2 linked regions of the Homo sapiens genome follow. The protein of the gene in region 1 purifies or fractionates together with the protein of each later gene. This does not show direct contact. Each region holds a gene or a part of one and is shown on either strand. Other genes may lie near its edges. The genes, in order: ASB17 and ARF4.

Evidence for each region.
Region 2: the proteins of ASB17 (region 1) and ARF4 purify together in Homo sapiens (affinity purification with mass spectrometry, with the first as the bait; one large-scale study listed by BioGRID). This does not show direct contact.

What each region holds. Positions count from the first base shown.
Region 1 is NC_000001.11:75,925,632-75,929,457, reverse strand, and holds part of ASB17 (ankyrin repeat and SOCS box protein 17), read left to right. Parts: intron 1-3,826. UniProt on the Homo sapiens protein: May be a substrate-recognition component of a SCF-like ECS (Elongin-Cullin-SOCS-box protein) E3 ubiquitin-protein ligase complex which mediates the ubiquitination and subsequent proteasomal degradation of target proteins.
Region 2 is NC_000003.12:57,573,130-57,576,955, reverse strand, and holds part of ARF4 (ADP-ribosylation factor 4), read left to right. Parts: intron 1-1,282; coding exon 1,283-1,408; intron 1,409-3,826.

The sequences.
Region 1 (3,826 bases):
CACGAGGTCAGGAGATCGAGACCATGGTGAAACCCTGTCTCTACTAAAAATACAAAAAAAAAAAAATTAGCTGGGCGCAGTGGCGGGCGCCTGTAGTCCCAGCTACTCGGGAGGCTGAGGCAGGAGAATGGCGTGAACCCGGAAGGCAGAGCTTGCAATGAGCTGAGGTCGCGCCACTGCACTCCAACCTGGGCGACAGAGCGAGAATCCGTCTCAAAAAAATAAAAAAAAATAAATAAATAAATAAAAAAAAATAAAAACCCTACATGAAAGGTCCCTCTGTATTTCTCCCAAACCCCATCTTGTATTACTCTCCCTTTTGAACACTATATTCCAGCCACAAAGACCTTTCTGTTTCTTGAACATCTTCAAGTTCATTCCTGCCATAAGGCCTCATAATACTGTTCCCTCTGCCTGAAAATTTATTCAATTGGACCTTCCTCCTCATCAGCTAGGTCACAGTATAAATACCATCTTCTCAAAGAGGCCTTTCCTACTCACACAATCTAAAGAAGCCACTCAGTCATTACAGTAGTTTACTTTAATTCTCTGCACCTGCTGATCACTGACCTGTTTATTTACTGTTGTTCCTTTTTCATTGGTTTGCTCACTATCTATCCTCACGGATAGAGTGTGTAGAACTATGTCAGATACGTAGCAACTGCTCAATCAAGATTTTGTTGAATGAGTAAGTGAATTTTGAAGCAGCTTTATTTGATTCTTCTTTCCTGTACTGCACTGAAGTCTTGCATTTCTCCAACCCTGCCCAAGTAGCTATAAAGATCAGTCTGCTAACTCTCTTTTCTAAAAGAAAACTTCTCAAGTATTTGAACACATCTATTATGTCCTCATAATGAATACCCCAAATTTCCTATTATCTGTTGTTCTTTACTTCGACAACATCATTCTTTGGTCATCCTCCCTTGTTTAGACTCTAATTTGATAATTTCCCTATTATATCTCCCTGGAGGAGAGGAGATAGAATTAACGAGGGGAAGAAACTTAAGTTTGTTCATTTTCACCACAAATCTGCAAAAAACATCTAAATGCCACAGTGTGACAGATTGTAGGTGGCTAAAGAGAGATGTCATTCCATTCAAATAACAATAATAAATATTAAGCATTTTTTAAGTGCCAGACACTATGTTATTTATTGGGGATACAAAAACAAAGTAGACACATTTCCTGATTTTAGAGAGCTCATATACTAGTAAGTGAGGCATAAATTTAAACAGCAATTATAGCCACACTCTAGGTACAAAAATAGAAGCATGCACAGGTAGAGAGAGCAGAGAAGGAAATTGTTAACACCATTAGGGAGGAGTAGGTATCTGAGAAGGCTCAATAGAATAGGTGATGTCTTAAACTGATTTTTAAAAGATAACAAAGAGTTTCTTCTTTCTTTCCCTTGAAGACATGTAATCTAGATAGAAGGAGGATTACTGAAACTAAGGGAGATACAAACAACATTGTTGTATCCAATGACTACAAGCAGTTTAGTAATAGCTAGAGAGTGAGATAGGAATCATGTAGTAAGAGAAATGAAGACTGGAATTGAAAGAATGAAGGACTTTGTAGGCCAGAGTGAGGAACATGAAATTTACACCATGGGTAATGCCTGGCCAGTGAAGGTCAATCAACTTGTACAATTAAAAAGATTTATCAGCCCCATTTGAAGATTGGATTTTGGGAAAACAGGCTGCAGCTAGGGCAGGGAAACCAGTTAGTAGACTACTCAAGCACTCCAAGTACAATGTTCTATGTGGGAAGAGTTGGGGGGAAAGTGATCTAATTTTTTTAAAGGGGGGTGGTTAGAGAAGGTCCCTGAGGCTGAATTTGCATAGCATGCATAGTACATGTACTTAGTTTACATGTGTATTTATAATAGTTTTGAGGGGAGAACTAATTCTCTTCTACCAACATCCCTCCCAACCTCTGTTCACCCTTTGATACTACAACTGTCCAGGCAAATTATGAGAACTTAAACTAAAACAGTAGCAGTGGGAGAAAGGAGAGAGATTTTTAGACAGAATTACAAGACACGGTAAGTGATCAGAATTGGAGGATCTAAGAGAAGAAAGAGTTAATCTTCAGATTTCTAAATTTTGAGAGTGGTCGAAAGTTGTATTAGTTTCCTGTTGCTGCTGCAACAAATTACCACAAACTTAGTGGCTTAAAACAACACAAATTTATAGTTTAGTTCTTATAGTTCTGGAGTTCAAAAGTCCAAAATGAGTCTTATAGAGCTAAATCAAATTGTTAGTAGGTCCAGTGCCTTACGGAGGCTCTAGGGAAGAATCTGTTTTCTTGCCTTTGCCAGCTTTCAGAGGCCATCTACATTCCTTGGCTGATAGCCTCTTCATCTTCAAAGCTAGCACTGTAATATCATCATATCTTATTCATTGACTCTGCTTCCAACATTCTCTGCACTTATAAGGACTCTTGCAATTACACTGGGCACACCTAGTTAATTTCCCACCTCAAGATCTTAATCATATCTGCAAAATCCTATTTGCCATACTGAGGGGCCATTATTCAGCCCACCAAAATGGTCATACAAGCTTATCGAGATAAAATATTTTAAAAAACCTATAAAATCAGTTTTAGACATATGAGTTTGCACTGCCTAATGGATATCGAGGTAGAGATGTGCAATACGTGGCTAGATAAACAGTGCCATCCTTAATGTTTCTCTTACATCTCACGTCTATATTGGGATCTGTTGGTTCTACCTGCAAATAATGTACAGCATCTGGCTGTCTCCACTACTATGTTCCAAGCTAAGTGATTTCCTTCCTTCTATAACAAATTCTCAACAAAGGGCAGATCACACTACTCTTCTACTCAAAACCTCCAATGGCTTGTCCTTTTGGTTTAGAGTAAAAGGTGAAGTTCTTACAGTGATCCATAAGGCTCTAAATAATGTGGCATCCCATTACCTCTGTCCTCTTTTCAGCCGCGCTGGTTCCGTTATTCTTCCTTCATCACTCCAGGCACAGTCTCCCGCCATAGGGCCCTGAAATATCCAAATGGTTAACTTCCGCACCTCCTTCTGGTCTTTGTTCAAATGTCATCTTTCAATAATGTACTCTTCCATCATCTTATTTAATATTTAAAAATGCCCTGACCGTACCAGCCCACAGCATATCCATACTTCTTATTCTGCTCTACTTATTCTTTTTTCCAAGCACTCATCACCTGCTAACATAAAATTTGCTTGTTTACTGTGTTCATCCTACATTGTTGTTAATCGTTCACTATAATATAAGCAAGATAGTAAGGATCTTTATTTTGTTTCCTGATATATCCCAAGCACCTAAAACAGTTCCTGGCATATAGTATGCATTCAGTATTTGTTGAAATAAATAAATGGACAGGAATTGAAGTTATGGTCATAAATGAAATTGCCTGGGAATAGCCAAATAAAATTGGTCTAAAGGCCATGCATACTTACTTAGATGTTGAGGGCAGAGGAAGAGGAGCCAGTGAAAGACAGTTGAGGAGAAATAGCCAAAGAGATGAATGGGTAACTTGGAGAGACTAGCCCAACTGAGTAAAAGGAAAACATAGTTTTAAGAAAGTCAACTGTGTGAAATATCACACATGTAAAATTATTCTGGAGAAGCATCTATCAAATTTTTCAGCTAGAAATTGAAGGAGAATGAGAAGGGAAAAAAATTAGAAATAATTATAGCTAAAAAACTGAATAATTCTCTGCATGTCTGTATGGAAATATTATGCCCCATTTCATAAGCATTATGACAGGTTTTCAGATACCAAGAGTTCAGTTCATTAACCTCACATTTAAAAACTAATTCTTGCTTTG
Region 2 (3,826 bases), on another chromosome or scaffold:
TGGTTTTGACCCTAGGAATCTTGGTTCAGATGTTTTGTTCCCAAGGTCATCGGTTCCATTTTCTCTATGCTGTGCCAATAATTACTTCAGAAATGTTTTTTAATAGTAACCATTTAAGGATAAGGAATTCCTTCTGAAAGTAGAGACAAATGTTTGGTTCACAGTGGCATTTTGCAGCCTTCCCATAGATTGGATTAATGTTTTCATGTGTTCATGTTGTTAAATGTACTAAATGGAGGAAGACTGCTGAGAATCCTTGTCATGATTTTAAACTTGTAGCCATAAAATATTTACTGAAATGAAATCTTAATTCTTGTTCATTCCTCCTAAGATTAGAGGGCAGTTTGTAAAACCATTGTGCCAGTATATGTGTAACTAAGTCATTGTTGGATTTTTGCCTGAGTCAAATGTCACCAGCTTTCCCTCTTCAAAAAAAAAAAAAAAAAAAAAAGCTTGGTTGAGACATACTTCACACACTATAAATGTCATCCTTTTTAAATGTGCATATCAATGGCTTTTAGCATACATAGTTGTACAACCATCATCACAATCTAATACTAGAAAATTTTCATCACCCTCAAAGAAATCTTGGACCATTAGCAGTCATTCCCATTTCCTTCCTCTCGTACACCACACTCCCAGCCTCTGACAGCCACTAATTTGTCTTTATACAGTCACCTATTCTGGACATTCATATAAATGAAAACATACAATGTGTTCTTTTGTGACTGATTTTTTCACTTAGCATAATTTTTCAGGGTTCGTCTATATTGCATCATGCATCAGTACAACTTCTGTTCTTGGTACTTTTTTTTTGTATATTTCATGATACTGCCAACACCCAGATAATTGTGTTATTGTCCCACTGTTGTTGGAAAGGATAGAAGTCCGAAAAGAATCATCATCTATCTAAGTACTTCTGCTACTAAGTACCATAAGAACCTGCCATAAACATTTTATTCCCACATGTATTTCTTGCCCTTATCAGTCCTGACAATGGGTAATCATGAAGGCTGAATGATGAGTGATTTGCTTTAATTTAATGGGGTGTAGGATGATTGACTTGGAAAACAGTTCTGTCTTATTTGAAGGCATATGATTGTTTGCTCTGGATTTAAAAACTGAAGGATATGAGACTTCAGTTGTAAGAGTGAACTTTGTGTCGAGAAATTAGGTTAATGTTTAATAATGTATTTAATGCTGAGTAAAGTATATATAGGAAGACATTTTCAAAAATTGGATTCCGGTTGGTAGTTGTTAATGCCTTACCTTTTATTTCCAGCTTCTGGTAGATGAATTGAGAGATGCAGTGCTGCTACTTTTTGCAAACAAACAGGATTTGCCAAATGCTATGGCCATCAGTGAAATGACAGATAAACTAGGGCTTCAGTCTCTTCGTAACAGAACAGTAAGTATTTGGAGGTTGATATTAACCTCTTGACTATTAAGACTTACTAGGATAGTTGTGTAAGCTAATATTCAGTTTAAACATTTATTATCTCCTTTGGACAAATAATGAGCACATCATTTATTTAAAAATATGGTAATAAACTTTAAATACCTTATTTGATTTTTGTAAAGAAACGGAAAACTACTGTAGAATAGGTCTAAAGATTATTGATAGTTTCTTTTTTCTTTTTTTTTTTTTTTGAAGGGAGAGGTGGAAGGAATGGAAAGAAGATTATTGATAGTCTTAATTTTAATTTTGTATCTTTTAAGTAACCCTACAGCAAATATTTTGAAATCTGGCTTTCTTATTAAGGGTCCAGTAATGTTTGTTTGCTTGTTTTAAAAGTGGAGATGGGGGGCTGGGTGCGGTGGCTCATGCCTGTAATCCCAACACTTTGGGAGGCCTAGGTGAGCAGATCATCTGAGGTCGGGAGTTTGAGACCAGCCGGACCAACCAGGGAGAAACCCTGTCTCTACTAAAAATACAAAATTAGCCAGGTGTGGTTGCGCATGCCTGTAATCCCAGCTACTCAGGAAGGCTGAGGCAGGAGAATCACTTGAACCCAGGAGGTGGAGGTTGCGGTGAGTCGCGATCGCGCCACTGCACTCCAGCCTGGGCAACAAGAGCGAAACTCGGTCTCAAAAAAAAAGTGGAGATGGGGGGTCTCGCTTTGTTGCTAGGCTGGTCTTGAACTCCTGGACTCAAGCAATCCTCTCACTATCTCAGCCTACCAAAGCGCTGGGATTCCAGCCATGGTGCCCAGCCTTGTTTGCTTGTTAACATAACAGTTTATGGAGGAGACCAGGTACCACGGCTCACACCCGTAATCCCAATACTTTGGGAACCCAAGGCAGGAGGATTGCTTGAGGCCAGGAGTTCCAAACCAGCCCGGGCAACAAAGTGAAACCCTATCTCTACAAAAATAAAAATTAGCTGGGTGTGGTGGCATGTGCCTTTAGTCCCAGCTACTTGGGAGGCTGAGGTGGGAGGACTGTTTGAACCCAGAAGTTGGAGGCTGCAGAGAGCTGTGATTGTGCCCATTGCACCCCAGCCTGGGTGACAGAGCAAGACTGTTTCTTTAAAAAAAAAAAAAAAAATTTGTACTTCTCTAAAATTGCTTATCATTGATCAGTGATTCAGTGATGGAGATAAATTATCAGAAACTTAGTGTCATAGGCTTTTTACAGTAGTTTTGCATTAACCTGTAAATAAGGGAAATACTGTGGCTGTGGTAAAAAATGAAACAAACAACAAAGAACCTATTGCAGGCCGGGTGCAGTGGCTCACGCCTGTAATCCCAGCACTTTAGGAGGCTGAGGTGGGTGGATCATGAGGTCAGGAATTCAAGACCAACATGGCCAAGATGATGAAACCCCATCTCTACTAAAAACTACAAAAAAATTAGGTGCAGTGGCAGGCATCTGCAAGCCCAGCTACTCTGGAGGCTGAGGCAGGAGAATCACTTGAACCCAGGCAGCAGAGGTTGCAGTGAGCCGAGATCACGCCACTGCACTCCAGCCTGGGTGACAGAGCGAGACTCCGTCTCAAAACAAACAAACAAACAAAAAAAAACAACCTATTGCCTGTTTGAGATATCTCAGGCTGATTTGAAGAACATAAACTGGGCCGGGTGTGGTGGCTCACACCTGTAATCCCAGCACTTTGGGAGGCGAAGGTGGGCGGATCACTTGAGACCAGGAGTTCGAGACCAGCCTGGGCAACATGGTAAAACTCTGTCTCTACTAAAATTACAAAAATTAGCTGGTCGTGGTGGTGCATGTGTGTAACCCCAGCTACTTGGGAGGCTGAAGGCACGAGAATCTCTTGAGCCTGTGAGGCGGAGGTTGTAGTGAGCCGAGATCACGCCACTGCACTCCAGTCTGGGCAAGAGTGAGTACTCTGCCTCAAAACAATCAGTCGATCAATCAATAAATAAGCAAGCAACACTAACTGTAAATGATACAAGTTTTCCATGCTGTGAAGGTATGAATTTGAGCCTTTCCCCAGCCTCCTAGGTTACTGAGATTTGGTATTCAAATAATTGGCAACATGGTATACCTGCAGTGGCCTTGCAACATTAAACTGGTCAAAAAAATTAATAAAAGTAAACTATGCCTTAAATGTAAATTGTTTTCTAGGTTTTTTTTGATACTTTCACACAGTTACTAGAGATAAGATTCGTTGCCATTTAAAAGCAAGAACGTTTTGGAATGCATGAGACTAAAGATGGTGAAATTGTCTGAAAAGCTTGCCCTTAAAATATCAACAAACCCTACTCTTTCTTTCTTTCTTTTTTTTTTTTTTGAGATGGAGTCTTGCTCTGTCACCCAGGCTGGAGTGCTGTGGCACGATCTCGGCTCACTGCAAGCTCTGCCT